2 separate regions of the Homo sapiens genome follow, and region 2 is linked to region 1. Evidence: fine-mapped QTL for protein levels in blood plasma. A gene starts in region 1. The other region holds a variant in brackets. All regions are shown on one strand. Distances are from middle to middle. Region 1 holds the start of COL9A1 (collagen type IX alpha 1 chain). Region 2 overlaps COL9A1 (collagen type IX alpha 1 chain).

What was found. A credible set is the group of variants that fine-mapping cannot tell apart. PIP is the posterior inclusion probability: the model's chance that the variant is causal. The UK Biobank Pharma Proteomics Project read protein levels with antibody pairs (Olink). The fine-mapping took linkage between variants from a reference panel, not from the people measured, so its PIPs are less certain.
Region 2: its variant is the best candidate, but not a certain one, in a credible set for the plasma level of the COL9A1 protein (UK Biobank, PIP 0.79).

The regions. Positions count from the first base shown.
Region 1 is chr6:70,298,249-70,308,704 of GRCh38, reverse strand. It overlaps COL9A1 (collagen type IX alpha 1 chain), which reads left to right and starts at 5,621. Exons shown (of 38, transcript NM_001851.6): 1 at 5,621-5,794; 2 at 6,631-6,704; 3 at 8,319-8,396; 4 at 8,530-8,662. The coding sequence starts at 5,781.
Region 2 is chr6:70,270,394-70,280,654 of GRCh38, reverse strand. It overlaps COL9A1 (collagen type IX alpha 1 chain), which reads left to right. Exons shown (of 38, transcript NM_001851.6): 11 at 5,883-5,936; 12 at 6,573-6,608; 13 at 8,567-8,590; 14 at 8,947-9,000. Among named protein-coding and RNA genes, the nearest start is that of COL9A1, 28 kb to the left of the region's middle. RefSeq lists an enhancer at 10,222-10,261. The variant C/T (reference allele first, on the strand shown) is at 2,382.

The sequences.
Region 1 (10,456 bases):
GGGAAAGAGATCCTTTGGCACTTCTAGTGTCTACTCTTTTCTAATCGAATGTTTTTTAAGCCATGAGTTGTAACCCATCAGTTGGTCCTGAAATGTACTCACTGATTTGGTTATCATCACTCAAAAATGAAATATAATAAAACAGAAAATAGAATATATTACATTTATTTATTTATTTTTTAACTAAGAAAACATAATTTTAATCATGGTAAACTTTGTTCAATTCCTGTGTCCACTGTGCACATTCTTCAAAACTGTTTTGGTTTTGTTATTAATTTCCTTTGAAATTTTTCTCATGCAAGACTTTCAGAATCTTGTTTACACACATGCACACACACACATAATTAGGATAGCAAAATGTTCATAGATGCTGTAAAGTTGTGTGAATTCTATTTTTAAAATAAAAAAATGTACATATTACTATAAAAATAACTTCTCCCCCTTGTGGCAAAAATTGAAAATACATTCTACTGGAGAACTGTAAGAGAGGCACTTAGGTATTATTCCTTATAAAATATTTTCACATAACTTCATGTGAATCCCCCATGTTATCCTCTAAATGGTACACAGTATTTACAAACAATATGCTTAGAGGTAGCTTCACAGTTTTCTTTACATCCAGCATTGTCCAGACTCTATTTGGATATTTTCTATAGCAAAAAGCTAAAGGTTATTTATTTTTCTAAAAACAGGGACTCACTATGTTGCCCAGAGTGGTCTTGAACTCCTAGGTTCAAGTGTTCTTCCCACCTCAGCCTCCCAAGTAGCTGGGAAGCTGCAGACTTGATAAAAGTGCTACAATAAAAGGCCAGAGTTGAAAGGAACCAGTTACAGTATAAAGATTAAAATGATAGGCAGGCAAAGAGGGATGGCCTCACTTAGAGACACCTGCCAATTTAAGATTACAGGGGCATCAGGAAGGCTTCTCACCTCTCAAAGTTTAATCTCAAAACTCTGGAAGTCCACCATTGGAGACTAATTCCTTTGTTAGTTCTGTCCAATCTTCACTTAGTTTATTAACATAAAGATAACTGGAAGGGATACGACACTTTCCTCATTTAAGATTCCCAATGGTGAAAACAAAGAAAGTCACTCATCGGAGCTATAAATGAAACTTAGCTTTCTTATTCCAGGTTCCTACTTCCTTCCTTAACCTTCCATATTTCCTCCTATTAAGTCACTAGGCACTTATAATTCTACATTTTACTGACCTTTCACTGATTATAAAGTAATTTAATACATTTATATGAGTAACTATTGCTTTCTGAAACTTTTGTTCTGGTTGTGTATCTGTATACGTAGTAATAAAGCCCATTCAATCCATCCTCCAAGCAACACCAGAACTGTCTTTCTAAAGACACATCCAAAAAAGTCATTATTGGCCTCAAACTCTTCTCTCAGTTCCTATAACAGCCAGAATAATGTCTATGCTTTCTTTTGATGTCATTCAAGATCCTTTACCCAACTCCTCCCCCGTGGTCCTCCTACTTGTGATTTCAGAAAGTGACATCACCATCTACTCAGTTGCTCAAGCTCAAAACCAGGTAGTTTTCCTGTCCCCCACCCCTTTTCCAATCTACCCACCAATCTTATCTCTTTATTCTCATCTGGTCTGAGTCAAAATTAACGACTTCAAAGCAGCCTTCCCTAACCCCTCAACCTAGACCAGCTTCTAAACCTTCTACAGACTCTATGACACATTGTCTTCTTTTATATTTTTCATAATGTTTCCACCTGAAATTATTTTGTCTATTCTTGTAAATGTGTTTAGTACCTCTCTTCCCACCAGTGTGTAAGCTGCATAGGGGCAGGGACCTGATCTTTCTCTGGTTGTCTCTCTGGTGTTAAGGTCACTCAGGGAGCATGGTAGAAGAGGCATCAATAGATATTTACCAAATGAAAGGATTCTTTGCTTCCCAAATGTCCTCTTTTACCTTTTTGTTATAGTATCTTCTGTTTTCTCTGTCTAAAACATACTGCACCCACTTATTCTCTTAGTAGCCTTAGTATCCTTCACGATTTCATCTCTTGTATTAAAAATTTCCCGATGCCCTTGGATTATGCTAATACTTGTTCTCAGTGACACTACAGCCTTCTTATTCTCTGAATTGTGGTCGCTTTCATATTGGTCCTCCATGCTGGATTGTCAGCTTCCTCAGGGCAAGGCTGTGTTTATTCACACTTTTTGCTTCCTCACCTCCCAGCACATACTTGATACATATACTACTGTATATAGTTACTCAATACATGATTGAATAAACAAAGGGAAGAAAGCAGATGATCAAGAAAGATGATTATTTGTGATGATGTTCCCCGATTTAAGCTTTAAGTAAATAATATTCTTGATTTATAAGAAGAAGGAGATTAGTGTGTGTGCATTCTGTGAAAAAGTATGTGGGGGAGGGATGAGAGGAGGTACAAAGAAAAGTATAACTGTTCTATACAAAACACTTCTATTTATAAAATGGATCATTTTAAATATTAAGCTGTCTTAGTTCATTTATAATCTGATATGATTGACCACATTTCATTTCTACATGGTTTTTCAGAACCAAACTGTTAGGTAAGGTGAGGAAATAATGCTAAGGGTGAAAAAGCTTATGCGTCTATGACCTTAGGGTGCAACTGACCCAGACCAGAATAGTGTGGCATTTGCACTGCTGTCTGTGAGATTCTAATGTCGCGTTAGGAAACAAGATTAATAGAAAATGGGAGTGGAGGGAGGAAAAAAAATTTCCTTAAATAATATTGTATATATCTTTGTTCTCTCTGGATCGACTTTCTTTTTTGTTTTTTGTTTTTTCTTTTCTTTTTTTTTTGACATAGGGCCTCACTGTCTTGCCTAGGCTGGAGTGCAGTAGTGCAATCACTGCTCACTACAGCCTCAAGCTCCTTAGGCCCAAGAGATCCTCCTGCCTCAGCCTCCTGAGTAGCTGGGACTGGAGGTGTGCATCACTGTGCCCGGCTAATTTTTGTATTTTTTGTAGAGATGGGGTTTCACCATGATGCCCAGGCTTGTCTCCAATTCCTGAGTGCAAGTCATCCGCCTGCCTTTGTCCTCCCAAAGTGCTGGGACTACAGGCATGAGCCACCCTGCCTGGCCTGGATTTACTTTCTTTCTTTTTATTAGTATTATTATTTTTGAGATGGAGTCTCACTCTGTCACCCAGGCTGGAGTGCGGTGGTGTGATCTCGGCTCACTGCAACTTCCGCCTCCTGGGTTCAAACGATTCTCCTGCCTCAGCCTCCCGAGTAGCTGGGACTACAGGCGCGTGCCACCAGGCCTGGCTAATTTTTGTATTTTAGTAGAGATGGGGTTTCACCATGTTGGCCAGGCTGGTCTCGAACTCCTGACCTCAGGTGATCTACCCACCTTGGCCTCCCAAAGTGCTGGGATTACAGGCGTGAGCCACTGTGCCCAGCCTACTTTCTTTCTTAAAATAGCTCTTGCTTGCTCCTACCATCTTAAATAAAACTGCCAAGCTAGAAAAAAGCCACACCACCTATAAGCAAACCTATTTTTCTCTCTATCCTTTCATTTTTAATTAAAAGGCACCCTCACTTGATTTCAAATTCTACTTGAAGAGGATTCATTACAGTGGGAAGGAGAGGGGCAAATGCGGAATTGAGATCTCTAAAGCAATGAAAGGATTTCCCAAACACTTCATTATAATGAAAAATCCCTCTCTCCTTTCTTACCAGAGTAAGTAATATGAGAGGATCAATCATGCAAATAAATAGCTTCAATGGACAGTCCCTTTGGAAAATGCCTTTTCCCCTGTGAATCTCTGGCTGGCTTACCTCCTGTGACTTCAGGATGTCAGGAAGGTCCCCAGCTGCAGTTTCTCCTCTGAGGTTAATAGACCGCTTCTTTCTCATGAGCCCTGACTGACTTAAACAAATAAGCTAAGATCTGGTCATTTGTAGTTCTGTCACAGAGCCAGGATGGCTGCACTAGGGAATGGGAATTTTGATAGACAGAAGGCAAATGACAGGGACTTGTAGAAAGCCCCAAACAGCATGAGGAAATGGGTGTCCCTCTGGGAAAGAGAGACAGGACTCCAACAGGTGGGCTATGAGTAGAAAATAAAAGGGCAAAAGCATGGATATTAAGTTTGCCTGATTTACATTTCATCAGTGAGCTGGGGGAGGCAGAAACTGAAAGGACTTTTTTGGAAAAGAAATAAACAAATGAAAAATAAGAAGCAACGCTATTGTTTTGTAATTAAATAAAAATTAAATCAATTAGAAAACGAAATTTAAAAATTTCAAGAAGCCAGGTGCAGTGGTGCATGACTATCATCCCAGTTACTCAGGAGGCTGAGGTGGGAGAATCCCCTGAGCCCAGAAGTTCAAGGCTGTAGTGAGCTATGATTATGCCACTGTACTCCAGCTTGGGGGACAGAGCGAGACCTGAGACCCTGTCTCTTAAAAAAAAAAAGTTCACCTAAAAATTACTTTGCTTGTACTGTGATTTTTGAGATCATTGGATCTTCTGACCTTTAGAGTCTTGGTTTTTGGAGTAACCACCCGTGTCCCTCAAGACAAGGCCAGAGGTTGGCCATGCTGAGTGGGTGGTAACGGGGGTGATGTGGGGGCTATAGGGAATTCTCTTTAGGTGCTCAGGTTCTGGAGAGACGGCATGGCATGTGTGGTAGCGATGCTGATAACATGCCTCTCTCTAGGTTTGTGCTCCTTGTAATTTGCTCTCACCTTGTTAACGGAGGATAATATGTTGCTTCTTTCCAGATACAGTGTCCTCTGCTCAACTCTGGTAGTCTCAGAGTTTAAGAATAAACAACAAGTAGGGGGCTTGATGTTACATTTTATCAGGATTTCTATCCATGAGGTAGAGAGAGGGAATGTGTATTTAGTAATAGGCATGGCACTTTGAAAAAGTTACTTCATTTTCTGCTTCCTCAACTTTCTTATTTGGAGAATAAGGGTAACTTCAGTCTTACCTTATAATGTTGTTGTGAGAATTAAATGGCATTAAGCTTTGAGCATTTTCAACAGACGGAGGTGCATAATGAAGCGTTAGCTATGAAGACGATGACAAATAATGATTGTTGGGTGTTAGACCCTCTGCCTTTGATACCTCATTTAATTCTCAAAACCATTGTTTTAATGTAAGCATTTTCAATCTGTTTTACAGTTAGGGCATCTAGTTACAGAAAGGTGAAGTAACTCTCTCAAGGACACACAGCTAGTAAGCTTCAGAATAAACAGGGATTGAAACTTAGGTTGATCGGGCACCAAGGCTCCCACGAGTTTCCACACCTCTGCCTCCCAGTGGGCACATTTTTACTGGAACCTCAGCCCTCTGAAAGCTTCCACTGTATTCCTATAGCAGTTCTGAAAGCTGCCATTGTACTCCTATAGCAGATCTAAAAGCATCTACTGTGTTCCTATAGCACCTTGCCTGGATCTTTCTGGTGAATTTCCCCACATCCTGATTTTATTTTTTTCTTTTCAGCAAACTTTCCCCTGTAAATCCCTCCTTCAGTATAACCTTGTTAGCTTTGAGGACACACCCCTAGGCCTGGGCTCAGAGCGCTGCTTCTCCCCACCCCTTTCCTTTGCTTCAGTTTAAAGTGTCACGAGATGCCTCTGGTTCTCTCCCTTTGCTTTTAGCCCTCACCGGGGGCAGGAGGGACCAAGGCTGGGCCCAGAACACATAGTCCTAGGGTAACAGTGAAGGGGTCGTGAGGGGACAGTGACTCCCTTCCAACCCCTTCTTCATAGGGACTGTTGGCAAACAAAGAAAATCAACTGGGAAAATGAAGACCTGCTGGTAAGACAATAACCCTGGAAAGAGTGGTGGGGAGATGGAGCTGGGGGTCCTCAGAACCAAGGGTCTGTATTTTTGCAGCAGTGGTAAGATGAGAGTAGGTGAGCCTCAAGGTGAGAGACAGAAAGAGAGACGGATGAGAGAGTAAGACAAGAGGGCAAGCGTGAGAAACCGAAGACAGACACAAAAAACCGAAGACAGACAGAGGAAGGGAGAGAAAGTGACGGCCACAGAAAAAGAGAGGAAGGAAATCAAAGGTGAAAGAAACCAGAGACAAAGAAATAGGTACCAAAACAGTGAGATAGGTAGATACCGAGAAGGTGAGATCAATAAAACAACAACGACAGTGGGGTCTGGAAACATGAGTTCCTTACATCTCTCAGTAGGGTTTCAAAGTAAAAATGAAGGCTGGGTGCGGTGGCTTATGCTTGTAATCCCAGCACTTTGGGAGGCCGAGGCGGGCGAATCACGAGGTCAGGAGTTCAAGACCAGACTGACCACCATGGTGAAACCCTGTCTCCACTAAAAATAGAAAAAGTAACTGGGTGTGGTGGCACGTGCCTGTAATCCCAGTTACTCAGGAGGCTGAGGCAGGAGAATCGTTTGAACCCAGGAGGTGGAGGTTGCAAAGAGCCGAGATCGCGCCATTGCACTCCAGCCTGGGTGACAGAGCGAGACTCCGTCTCAAAAAAAAAAAAAAAAAAAAAAAGAAATGAAAAAAAAACTATACTGTGATTTGATCACCTTACATTAATTAGGTTTACTAGGTTTGAAAATATGGAAGTGTTTTCCATCTGCGGGGACTCCTGTTTCAGTCATTTTTCTTCTCTCTTCTTCAGGAAAATTCCAGTTTTCTTCTTTGTGTGCAGTTTCCTGGAACCCTGGGCATCTGCAGCTGTCAAGCGTCGCCCCAGTAAGGGCCATAGTTTCTAGACTTTCAAAGATCACTTATTCCCAGAAATGATCAGGCAGGGCTGTGGCTGACTGAAGACTGAGTGAGGCATTCATAGTCCTTCACACCCTCACTCTTCAATCCAGCTTTGGGGCACAGGGATACATTAGGTTCTGGTTTTCCATGGTCAATGCTGGGTATGGAAAGTAAGTCCTGTCAGTAATCACAGTTGGTAGGAAGGCCAATCTGTGAGCTGCAGTGCCTAGTGCAGTGCCTAGTACAGATGGTGATTGGTAAATGTTGGGTGAATACATGGATGAATGAATAAATAGACTGATGGATGGATGGACCTCAACAATTTGGGGTGAGGAGAGTATAAAGAGCATGTTTGATGTACCATTATGGTTAGGCCCATGCTTTTTTATATTTATATTTTTATTTTTTTGAGATGAAGTCTCACTCTGTCACCTAGGCTGGAATGCAATGACACAATCTCGGCTCACTGCAACCTCCGCCTCCCAGGTTCAAGTGATTCTTCTGCCTCAGCCTCCGAAGTAGCTGGGACTACAGGCATGTGCCAGCATGCCTGGCTAATTTTTTATATTTTTAGTAGAGACGGGCTTTCACCATGTTGGTCAGGCTGGTCTTGAACACCTGACCTCAGGTGATCTACCTGCCTCAGCCTCCCAAAGTGCTGGGATTACAGGCGTGAGCCACAGCGCCGGGCCTATGCTTTGTAACTGAATAATACTTTTTTTGAAGTCTAGAGAGTCTCTGTTGTCAGATGAATCTTAGCAAGGCACTGAGGTTGGATATTTCCAAGAAGCCTTCTGTGGTGGTGAAAAATCTCTCTTCCCTTTGACCTTCCATTTGTGTAAGGAGAACACAATTCCATTCTATGATTTCTTATCAAATTGAGGATTTAATCCTTCTCATGATTATTTTCTTCTTCTTTTTACTCTTCCCAGTTCTAAGATGTTAGGATTAATCTAGTCGGGACTTTTATTTGATCTCTTAGAACGAATTTATGAAATCAAATCCATCCTCTATATTTTATTTAGGATTAGTGAATCTCAAGACTTCCCCAGGCCCCTATATCTGACAAAGATTCCTAAGAACTCTACTCTCCAGAAGCCCCACTGAACTGGACCAAGGTTGGCTCTGGAATCTCACTGGAATCCTAAAATTTGTGGTGTTTAAGGAACATTTTCTAGCCCAAACCACCAGGAATTTTCCAAACAGATTTCTGACCCTGTGCCATTCAGGACACCATTCAGCTTTGGTTTCAAAAGGAACAAATGCCTAACCTCTTCAAAACGAACATTTTCCCAGCCAGATTATTAGAGCAACTTTGTGCCTTGCATCCACCCCTTCCAGGATGAGTTGCAGGTGGACAGATTATAATCGTAGAGGCATGGAGGTAAAGCCAAACACTTTACCTCTAAGCAAGCTGGTATAATATTGAATTTTAAATATTTATTATTATTGATACATCCTGAAATCTTTTTTTTGTGGTCAATTGCTATTTTCTGGTTCTAAATTTTATTATTATTATTATTATTTTATTTTATTTTATTATTATTATACTTTAAGTTAGAGTGGATGAAGTAGAATGACATGCTATCTCTTTTGCAGGATTCCCTGTCAATTCCAATTCTAATGGTGGAAATGAACTCTGTCCAAAGATCAGGATTGGCCAAGATGACTTACCAGGTGAGTAGCAATGTACCCTATTGAAAATGCATGCTTTCTATAAACCTGATTTTTTTTTTTATTTGGGAAAGTTGTGGAAAGAAATAAAACCAATCTCATTTTAGACTTTTCATTTTGTATTCCCATTCTATAGGGTTTGATCTGATCTCTCAGTTCCAGGTAGATAAAGCAGCATCTAGAAGAGCTATCCAGAGAGTAGTGGGATCAGCTACATTGCAGGTGGCTTACAAGTTGGGAAATAATGTAGACTTCAGGATTCCAACTAGGTAATCTATCAAAAATATTTTAATCTAATTATCTGACTCAAATGCATTAAAAATGGATAGCTATCCAATGTTAGAGTTTTCTTATGATCAATGTTTCTTGGATTATAATTGTATTTAAAGATGAAGAAATTTATTTACCTGCCTATCTTCAGTACCTTAATACTGCATTTCATGTTTTCAGTATGTAATTTACTTTCCATTCCAGGAAAAAGCATCACTGAGACTATTATACATTGATTCAGGACATGTTCTTATTACCTTGCTTTCTGTTTTTCTATAATTTGTCTGGTTTTGACTGAAAGGACCCTCTGTGAAAAGTGCCAGAGGGTAAGCATAAATTTAACTAGGAGCCACAGAGTGGTTAGAAGACTCACAATGGTGCTGTTCAAGTGTCCTGGTGCTGAAATGGAGCCACACGTCCACTGCTTGGCTTCTGGCAGACATCAAACCAAAGCAAAACTAAAATAATTATAATAGAAACAATGATAGTAATACTAACGACATCAAATCCTCCACTTCACTGATTTCTTTCTCTGGAACTAAGCCTTTTGCTCTTTATTTAAAACTGAGGTACTTTAGTGTGTAAGTGTTGAGTCCTGTCATCATTATGAATGAATCTCAGCAATTTAGTTTTGATATCACCTAAATACCTTATTTATGATTATGATAATTATTATATGCTTTAGCACACTATAAAAAAACTAGAATTAAAATTCCTTTAGTAGATAAATGAGACAATTAGGACTTCAATAGAAATTAAGTTATAAAGATAAATAATGATTAATTAGAACAATAAGATAATATAGAAACTCAATGTATATAAAAATAAAAATTTTGAACAAATTAGAAGAATCTGATATAATAGTACCAGATTACAGCTAGAAATTCATATTTTGAACCTACTATATATTATTGTATAATACAACAATAGTACATTATATGAGCTCTTTCTATAAATTTACTAATTAACATTAATTTCATTCTCATCACAACCCTGTGATATAGGGTCATTATTAACCTTTTTTTTCTTAAATCAGGGATCCCCAAAAGTTTAATTTACTTGCATAAGGTGAGTGGGTTGGAATGTGCTGGAAGGACTGAATCCCAGGCAGAATGGTTGCAAAGGTTTTACTTCTAACCACTACTCCATACTGACTCTGGAAAACCATTCACATCTGGAAAGATTAAAACCATGATAACAGTGAATTCACTTTTTTTTCCTCATAATTTCTTTTCATGTATGGAAGTGCCAGTCGTGTTGCTAAATAAGCTTTAAAAATTCAGTTTTTTCTTTCTTAAATAATTAAGCAAAACATGAGGTCCTCAGTGCTGACCTGATTTTCTCTTCTAAGGTTTGAGGTACTGTCATTAACTCTTAAGTTCAGAGATTGATTAATTTGATGCCACGTGGCTTCCTTACCTCCTGCTCATCTTCGTTGTTGTCTAGAGCTGTCACTAAATAATGTACCCAGGCTATATTTAATGTCTCACATTTGCTACCCTTGACTCCCTGCCCCCATAAGGACTAAAAAATCTTGTTTTACTGTCAAGGCTTGTTAAAAGATAAGGAAAGAAGGAGGAAGAAATTAGGAAAAGAAAGTAGGAGAATAAAAAGAGAAGGAGGAAAGTTAGAGACTCAGACATGTGGAATTCCAAGTAAACAGTAAAGTTTATTCTTGGGAAAGTACTTAGACTATCTTTACTTCAGTTCCCTCAGTTTAAAATTAGGAATAGTAACTCTGTCATGAGGTTGCTATGTAGAGTAGGTGTTCATAACTGGAGAGTGCTTCAAGA
Region 2 (10,261 bases), 28 kb after region 1:
AACTGGCAGCTTTTGCAAAAGGACTTGTGAAGGTGAGGATACCTCTCTCTAGGAGGCGTTGGCATTTCCTCCTCCTAGAAAACAGCAGCGGGTACTGGCTTCCTGTCTCTAACCGTGACCTCACAGTGCACGCTGTGAACTCTCAGCCCCACTGGGGCCAGAGGGGGTACGGATGGCAATAGATTGTACTGGCTTCGGCTTACCTGCTGTGAGCCCACTGGCAGGCTCCTGGAAGCTAGCCTTCGCCCTTGCTCTTTCACCGGCACTCCCTGCATTAATTTAGAAAAAGATCCTGCAGGTAGGCAAAGGGCCAGAGCACTCCTAAATCCCAAGGAATGTGAAAAAGAAAGATGCACTTGAAGTGAGTGGGGATGTGCGGGGAATTTAGAAATTCAAAACTAGATTTTCGTCTTTCCATGGAGTTTTTCTGGCTGGCATTACTGGCAGAAATGAGCTGGCTAGGACTGTATGAAGATTGAGAACCAGCAGGCTTTCTCCAGTTTACCCACATCTCCATCAAATGCTGACTTATATGGTAAACCTAACACTAAATAATACTTCTTCAGAGTAAAATGACTTCAGGATTCTCAGCTTCTCCTCTTTCCATGCATTCTAACAATATGTAATAATGACCCACTACAGACCAGTCCTTGATTTTGTCCCTGGAATATGAAGTGAAGTAAGAAATGGCGTCTGTTCTTAGCATACCATGGTGCATCACTCAAGTTACTCTTCAAGTTACCACTTTATGTGTTTTCCAAAAACTAAAGACTTTTCTAAATGAAAGAAAGCACTCGAAAACCTATAATTATGATTTCCAAGAATTTTTGACTACAGTTTAAGACATATCCTTCATTTTGAAAGAAAAATAAATAACTGGATTTTTACTGTTATTAAGGTGTGCTTTCTTTGTCGGGATTCCCATAATGAATGTGTTTGTTTATACTGTGTCTATACTATTTAGCGTTTTTGTATGTGTATGTGTTTTTTTTTTTTTTTTTTTTTTGAGACGAAGTTTCGCTCTTGTTGCCCAGGCTGGAGTGCAATGGCACGATCTCGGCTCACTGCAACCTCTGCCTCCCGGGTTCAAGCGATTCTCCTGCCTCAGCCTCCAGCTTCCCGAGTAGCTGGGATTACAGGTGCCCTCCACCATGCCCTGCTAAGTTTTGTATTTTTAGTAGAGATGGGGTTTCACCCATAGTATTTTAGGAAATAGATCTTGGTTTACATTTCAAAGCCCCTAGTTTGAACTTTCTGTGTATGCAAATTAGCAGTACAGGAGGCACCTAAGGACTAATATTTAGATAGTAAAAACTGAATCTCAAACAAGCGTTTGTATTAATGTAATATGAACTGAAATAATATAACTTGTTGGCAATCAAACTCTTTGGAACATCTATAATTAATCGAAATTGTCATACCATAATAAAAAGAGTCTGACAAATTCAAGGCTACTGAACAAACTGGTAGCCTAATGTAGCTTGAATTTATTTCTATATTCCTTTGAAATTTCAATCAGCCTTTAGTTTTGGATGAAAAGAAAATTTCTGACTAAATTAAAAAAATTATTTTGGTAAATAAAATATTTATTTTGTATTTCAAAAATTTATTTTGGTATTTGAAGCGTAAATGGGTCATCTGAATCCTTGTCTTGCTATTAATTAAACTGCAATATAATGTCAGACAGAAAGCTGGACTTATCTGTCCCCCAATTTAATAGTGCTTTTGTAGCTTACTCAACAAATTCTTCTCTTTACCTTATACCATGGTGTCATAAAGACAATCCTTGGTTTTGCTTATAAAGTAATTTCCCCACTCTAACAGAAACTTTGGATAAACAAATGAAAGTGCTTTGAAATTTTTAGAAGTACAACATAGAAAGCAATTTCAAGTAAATTTTTCTTTGTCTATATTTGCAGACCCACAGTGCAGCATAAACCAGATTTCAAATATTAAAAGACATAAAAGAATAAGCTGCCTTAAATTATTGAACTTTGACCTCAAGGAAAAAATGATGAGCACATTTAGTCTGCTGAGACAGGAGAGGAAAGCAAAAGAGAAAGAGAGGAAAGGGGAGAAAAAAGGAAATCCCTGTATCTGCCAGTATTTTAGGCATTTTCTAGATCTTGGGGAAAAATCAACTATACTATTTGCATTTACACAGAACTTTTTCCTCAAGCACTGCCACAAACATTTCTTTTAACCAACAATAACCTGGAAAGTAGATTAGTCTAATATTACTTTCCATAAATAAGGAAACAATAATTATGAAGACAAGTGGTTTCCTCAGAGAGCTATTTAGTAGCTAAGATAACAAAATAGTCCAGATTTCTTGATTTTTAGACTCCCCAGGCAATTCTGCCTCATGCGAATACAAGTGA[C/T]GATCTTAATAGATGAGAGAGAATAGCGAGAACAGAGAGAAAAAGTGATAGTGAATTTTTAGTACCTAAGTCACCGATCAAGAAGAATGATATGGATAATAACAGCCATTTGTAATAGATATTTTATAATTACTTATAAATATTGGTTTGTTTTATATTCCCTGACTTTTGAATTTAAGCCACATGAGGCATCTGGAACTGTAAAGTTTTCTTATTCCACTCTTTGACTGATTTGACATTAAAAAAATCTTTTATTCTAAATTGAGAATGGATATCTTTGAGAATAATGAAATGCAGTAACTGGGTCAGAATTTGCTGTTTGTTTGTCCTTGGCCATAGGGGAGCTAAGTAAGTAGGAGAGCTTCAACAGTCCTTTCTTGGTAGGTGAACCTGAGTGTGCTGGTAGGACCTTAAACCTCGAATCATTTCGTCTTCTGCTCTTTGGGTCATTACAAGGCTTATTTTTTGATAATGTTAAAAAATGGTTAATTGGATGATGGTTGAAAGAATCAGAAAGGAACCCTGTTCAGTGTTCATTATCCTATGTTGAATGGATTTTTGGCAGAAAATGTAAATGAGTCATAGCAGTCATGCTTGTAGAAGTAAGCCTTGAGTCCTACCAGCTGAGCTGTCAGAATACTGGAAGGAAATCTCCATTGAGGACTGGTTTTCTCTGCCAAACAGTAACATGAAGTTCAGAACACAGTCAGCTTCAATGTTATAATGTATAGAAGTTTGTCTGTATGAATATTCATATGAAGGCACTTTTTTCTGCTCTGGTAATGTTTTCTTCTTTTATTTCTTTGAAATAAGAATTAGGAGGTCTTACTGCAAACTGGATTTTGAAAATTATGTATGTATTATGTGTGTGGTCTGTATATTTCAACTCAAATCTGCCCTTTTTTCAGGTTAAGTTGATTTTTTTTTTTTGGCTTATGGACATGTAAAATTAGATAAGACAGAACTTGGTCCTAACCTTAGGACAACTGTGCTGTTCTCAGCAATTATATTAATAGAGATATTTTTATATGTACTATTTGTTGTGACATGCTCAGAGAGACCTTTAAAAACAGTATTTTATTCTTTCTTATAACACCCATATGAGATAAGCAGAAGAGGAATTAGAATAAAGTATAAGAATTATAGCTAAACTGTGATAATTTTTACAGGCAGAGGTTAGGTGCTATGTATTTTCTGAATGTATACAACTATTATCTGTGGCAGATGCTTTATAACTAGAATTGTGAGTTATTAAGAAATTATTCTAAAAGATCAGTGTAGGTGCAAATATTCAGGCATTGAAGAAATGTGATGAGGATAAGAAATACAGTGCTGTGGTTAATACCTAGATTTGGTTTGTTTGTTTGTAGGACCTTTTCTCAATGAGGAACAGCGTCTAGAACACTGTGCAGTTAGGGACCTTGCCCATGATTCCACAGCTGCTAAGTAGTAGGATCAGGATTTGAGCTGAATATAAAGATGTTGTGGAGGAACAAGTGTAATATCCTGCCACCTGGAAGGCCTCCTTAAACTTATTGTAGGCAGTAATCACATCTTGAGTGGTTAGATGCCAGGACAACATGTTAGGACTGTAATGGACATATGACTCTTGTCCTCATGGAGCTTACGGTTTTCTGCATAGTTATTTCATAACAGGTGTTACTGTAACATCTGACACCAGAATCCATTTTCAACTTAGTTCAAAGAACTTTCCAGTGATTGACATAATTTAGCATGTCTTATGGAGGATATTTTTAATATGAAGTAACCGAAAAACAGCTTCCAGGTTATCCAACTATTTACTTGGTTCTGCTTTATAGTTACTGTCCTCCAATCTTGTCAGTTATTCCAGTCACAGGTTGAAGAGTGTTAGTTGACTGTGTGTATGAAAATTGAACAGAATTGGTCTTGGAGGGTTTATGCATTAAGTGAGAATTAGAGGATCAGTTAGTTAAATATGCCCAGAGGTTTATAAAATTTACATGCCATATGTGCATCCAGAGAGTGCTCCTGGATGTATAGTTTGTTTGTGAAATGCCAAAGCAAACATTTCATTACCATAGGTGCTTAGCAACTAATCATGTTGAGGTTTGTTCCCAAATTACGGTGTTGTAATTAGACTAGGGCTATTGAAAATCAAAGGCAGTCTGTCAAAAGTTCTTTTGTGTGTGTTTAATATTTTTCTTCTTTGGTAAATTTCCAGTAATTAACATTTCAACTCATTTTTTTCTATTTGATTCACTCTGTGACATTGTTAGGAAAATTAATTAAGGTAGAGAAATGTAAAAATGGTGGCCACTGAACTAGTTTTCTATATGAATTATGTGAAGGAATTTTATGGATGTTTATTCAGACCATGACAGACTAAATATGAATTTTGGTGATCCATTTTTAAGTAGGGCTTTCATATTTTTCAAGAGATCCCTCTGTCAATATTGTTTGGGTCTTCTTCAAAATCTTGATAATAGAAAGGGTTTATAAGATACTTATATAGGCATGTATGTATATGTACACACATATATATCATATTTATCTTTAGGAAGGTATACTTTCAAGATTACATTGTAAATGACAGCATCTGAAAGTGTCAAAGAGCAAAGAAAAAAATTAAAAATAGAAATGTATCTTTACCAAATATGGAAATTCTTGTATATATGTGATATTATCATTCTTTAATACGTGTTTTATATTGAGGATGATGATAAAGTAAGTAGTAGTAGGGAAAATGAGAATGTTTAGAATATGTATTTAATAACTGCTTTAGTATTAAATATGATAATTATAAATGTGGTTTATAATAATAGGCTTAAATTTTACATACCGAGTGGCATACATGAACATATATACTTAATCACAGCTATTTTTACTAAGAAAAATAATGTAGAAACATGCATGCTTTCAAATGTTTCTACTTTAAGAATTAATATTCTTTGATAAGCAATTGTCATTGCTAGAAGATGGCTAGGGGGCTGTTAGTGGCTATAAGGCAATAATGAGATTGTTTGTGTTTAATTCTTATTGAGGAAATATTTTATTGACTTCCAAGACATTGTTGTCATGTAGAAAGAGATTATTGTCCTGTAGAGAGATACATAGTATTTTTGTTTCATAAATGAAGTAAAGGAGGTAAATAAACCTGAGTAAATGGCAGAACCAAGACCCACCAGTCTTAGCTATTACAACATTGTAATTGCTATGTTGCATTTTTTTCCAAAGCAGAGACAAAAAACACTGAATTATTGAACCCTGTGATAAACAATGCAGTTAGCAGGAAGTTAGGAGTATGATACAACTTATCAAGAAGAAATAATCACAACAGGCAGATCTTCTGTTAATCTTTACTTTTGAGTAAGACTATAGTAAGGTATTTCTTTATAAATATTTGCATCATACTTATGTAACCATCCTGTAGACAATTAATAAATAAAATGAAAGTTTTCTACTTAGTGGTTTGCCTAAGGATGTTATGATAGTTCTAACATCATTGTCTTGCTCTATTAGGGATTAACAGGACCTGATGGATCCCCTGGCTCCATTGGGTCAAAGGGACAAAAAGTAAGTTAGCCATCTGGCATTAATTGCTAGTACGAAAATGCTGAAGTATAATTTTATTGCAGTGTTTGCAAGCCAACTAACATTAAGTTATGAAGTATCTAAAATGCACTCGTTCAACTAAAATTGTGTTTAAAAACACCATGATGTGGAATACTATGCAGCCATAAAAAGGAACAAGATCATGTCCTTTGCAGGGACGTGGATGGAGCTGGAAGCCATTATTTTCAGCAAACTAACGCAGGAACAGAAAACCAAATACTGCATGTTCTCACTTATAAGTGGGAGCTGAATAAAAAGAACACATGGACACATGAAGGGGAACAACACACACAGGGGCCTGTCAGAAAATAGGGGGTGGGAGGAGGGAGAGCATCAGGAAGAATAGCTAGTGGATGCCAGGCTTAATAGCTGGGTGATGGGATGATCTGTGCAGCAAACTACCATGGAACATGTTTACCTATGTAACAAACCTGCACATCCTGCACATGTACCCCTGAACTTAAAATAAAAGTTGGAAATTTAAAAAAAAAAAACACCATAATGGGGTGTTTTAATGCTTTCAATATTTATGCAGTTTTCACATTTACATATTCATGATATGAAAGGTCAGTACAATGAAACTATTTTTATTTTTAGGGAGAACCTGGTGTGCCTGGATCGCGTGGATTTCCAGTAAGTAAATGTAAAGCTACAGAATTGAAAATTTCCTATCTTTAGGTAAAATTCTGCCATTGTGAAATCTTTTTATTTATTTATTTATTTATTTATTTATTTATTATTATACTTTAAGTTTTAGGGTACATGTGCAGTTTTCTGCATAATATACATGAGAAATAAGTTGATGACATCTGGTATGGTAAGCATTTCTACTATGAGTGGAAAAATTTTAGAGAAGTTTGAATGTACAGTAGAAAATATATATTCTATTTGCAGGTGGTATTTCCCAGCAGACAATTCCCTCTTTACCTGCCATGATAGAAAACACTTCTTGCATAACAACAGCATATCTAAGTATTCAATGTTTAGACCATGGTGTCACACCACATTCTTCACAACTGGTTTTATCTCTAATGAAATATCGACTAATCAGATATTATCACTTGCCTGATTCCTTGGCTAGTCTTTTTCTGCATTTGCACAATATGGCAGGTGTGTGTTATTTGTATATATGAGGACCAGGTTCTTAGGCTGCTTTTCCTATCTATTTTGCTCTTTGTTCCACTTTTACTCTTGTCATTAATCTGTATTTTTTCTTCTTTTTTCCTATTTGTGCTATTTTCTTTGCCATATTTCAGCATGTCAACTTTTCCATTATAAGCCTATTTTCAGAAGTGAACAGCTTGCTGGCCTTTCTCCCATATTTTTCAACTCAACTCTTAATCTCAACAATTTATAGAGATGCCTTTTTGTTTAGTGAAATTTGTTGAACATCTAGGTTTCTGACAATGAAAGAACTTATTGATTACTTTGGTGTTTTCAAACACAACACTTACTTCCTGAATTGACCTATGTATTAAAGTGTTCAAACTGGAGTCCTTTTTCCAGGAATGCCTTTTAAAATCCCACTGATTATTAAAACATACTGTCCATGTGAAGTTCTTGCTTGTTTTTCCTGTCCAACTAATTAGAAATAATAATATCATTATCAGTGCATTGATTCCATGGGATGCTTGGTATATTCATATTTTAGAAAAGCCAGTCTGGAGTGAAAAGCTATCATGAATATCATATCACAGACAGCTGTGAATAAAAACCATTCTAACCAATGTAGGAGAGAAAAGAATAATGAGAAATCCCAAGGGGAAAAAATTGAACTTGGAAATTAAAGAGAGAGAATAGAGATCTAGGCAGCTGATATTCAGTTTTAATTTCAACGAGCATATTATTAGGTTTTGTTATATGCTAGGCCCCGTGCTAGGAGTTGGGGCTAGGAAGATGAATAAGATGTGGTTCAATCCTTGATTATGTAAAGTTTGGTGTTGCTAACGAGATATAAATGTAAAGAAGAAAATAGAATGACTATCTTAAAAATCAAATATAACATATTAAATTAGCGTCCCATTGTAGGTTACTTCAGGAGTGACACCATTTTATTTTCAATATCTACTGGATTCAGTGTCTGAAAATATAGCCCAACCTTTCAAAAGGGAGGTGTGTTTCTGACCCTTTTTTGTCCCTGCCTCTCTGTGCTGAATGTTTGGGGAACTTCTAAACATAATTTATTATAGATTGTAAAACTAGAATGCTTTTAATGTAGGTTTCCTATAAAATGCTACAAATGAATAAAATCTGTAAACTCTCCAGTTGTGATGCACCTCTTTGTGAGTTATGGTAAGTTCTCCTGAGGGCAAGCATGGAAGGCTTCTTTACTTTGATTTCCTTAAAAAAAAAAAGTTTGGAAAAATCCCAGTTAGCATAGACAGCAAAGGAATGTTAGAGGAGCTGAAATAAGCTTCTGCTTCCTGTAGAAGCAGAGCCGTGTTTGCTTTTCTTTATTCAGTGCTTTCTTTAGAATGAGCATCATTTTTAGTAATAGAGTTTATGGTTTATTTTAGCTGAGTTATGTCTACATTCATATTTATACTAAGTATAAACCTCAAGCTATAACCATTTTTATTGTACTCTTTTAGGGCCGTGGTATTCCTGGACCCCCTGTAAGTATCACTTCATCATTTATTTTTATGCAGTCTATAAAAATGTCCTATTTCTCAAATCCCCACCTTATTCTCCTACTAACGGTCTACTCAGTGGTGTTTACAGTGTTCTACCTGCAAGATCTTAGGTGGCTACTAAGGATAACACCCTTATTCTGCTAAACAAAATATTTATTAATTTAGGAAATTTCTGCTGTATCTTAAGTAATTAAAGTTTGGTCAAATGAGTTATTGTGTCATTGGAAACCAAAGCTAATACAGAAATGTAAATCTAATATTTATCATATTTGATATAATGTATGATAGATTGTAAAAATATTCATAAATGACCATTTGCTTTGATTTGTTGACTTCAGGGTCCTCCTGGGACAGCAGGACTCCCTGGAGAGCTTGGCCGTGTAGGACCTGTTGTGAGTACCACAGTGCACTTTGATAGACGTTTGCTGATTTAATAGAAGATGTTATTTGGGAAAGCAAATTACCCTAACTGTACATTTCCACTTGCAAACCAAAACATGGCAGATGAATTTCATTCCAGTTTATAATATTGATGTGAACCAGGAATAATAATAATTTTTGCAGAGTGATTTTAATTTTTTCCTAAATTTTTCAGCTAAACTTTTCTTCCCAACTTCCAGATTGTCAAGTAAGAGAGTGTCGTCCTCATTTTACAGACTCTCAGCCAGGACTGGAGTCTAGTGGCTTTTGTATTAGGCTCCCTGCATGAAATAAAAGTGAATAGCCTAAAATTATTACCATGTGTATTTATGTTAGGATCATTAAATTATAATTCAGCCAACAAAATTTAACTTTTAACATTAAAGAGCTGGGCTTCATAAAAAATGTCTCATATAAAATGCTTCATATTGATATTAAGTAAACATTTCAAAAACGTTGACATAGTGATGTTATGTGAAGGCGCGTAATTGTAAACTCACTGTGGGAAGGAGCCATGTATCATATACCTTGTTTGTTCCTCTACATGTGCTTACTGTTTGCAAATTTATTTAGTGAACAAGTGAATGAATATGAAATGATTGTAAAGTTAAAATAATTGGGAGGTGCTTCCGACTCTTTATGGCAGAACATCAAGAAGGAAAATGTGCCAAGAGTAAACATTGGATGTTAAGAGTAATTGGAACCCATTTTCATCTGAACGGTTTACTTCGATGTAGCTTTCTTTGATTTTCTGACTCATTGCAAGAGGTGCAGTGACAGACCAAGTGATAGATTGTGGGTGAACAGCACTTGCAAGAGTCAGGCACTGCAGAGATTAACCTTCCATTCCACAGTTTCAGACTGAGTGCAAACCTTCTTTTGCACTGGTTAGCAGAATGGCACTAGCAGTATAGGTTGCTCTAGGTCCTCTGTAAATCAACCAGAAAAATAAGTAGTGTTTCCAATTTGCTTTCAGAGTAGATAAAATGTTTGTCTGATAGAGAAGAATTGGCTTTGCTTTTTCCCCTAGCTTCTCTCTGACTTGTTTTATTACCTCGGTGAGACTGGAATGCCTTTATTACTCTCATTTTGTAGAACTAATTGGATTACGGGCCACCCATCGATTTTGGTGGCAGGTCTATGCATGGCTGAGCTCGGTGGGGGTTTCCAGTAATACCATTCTCTTATGCCTCACTGGTTTTATGTACTGTGTTTTGACACATGTATAACCAC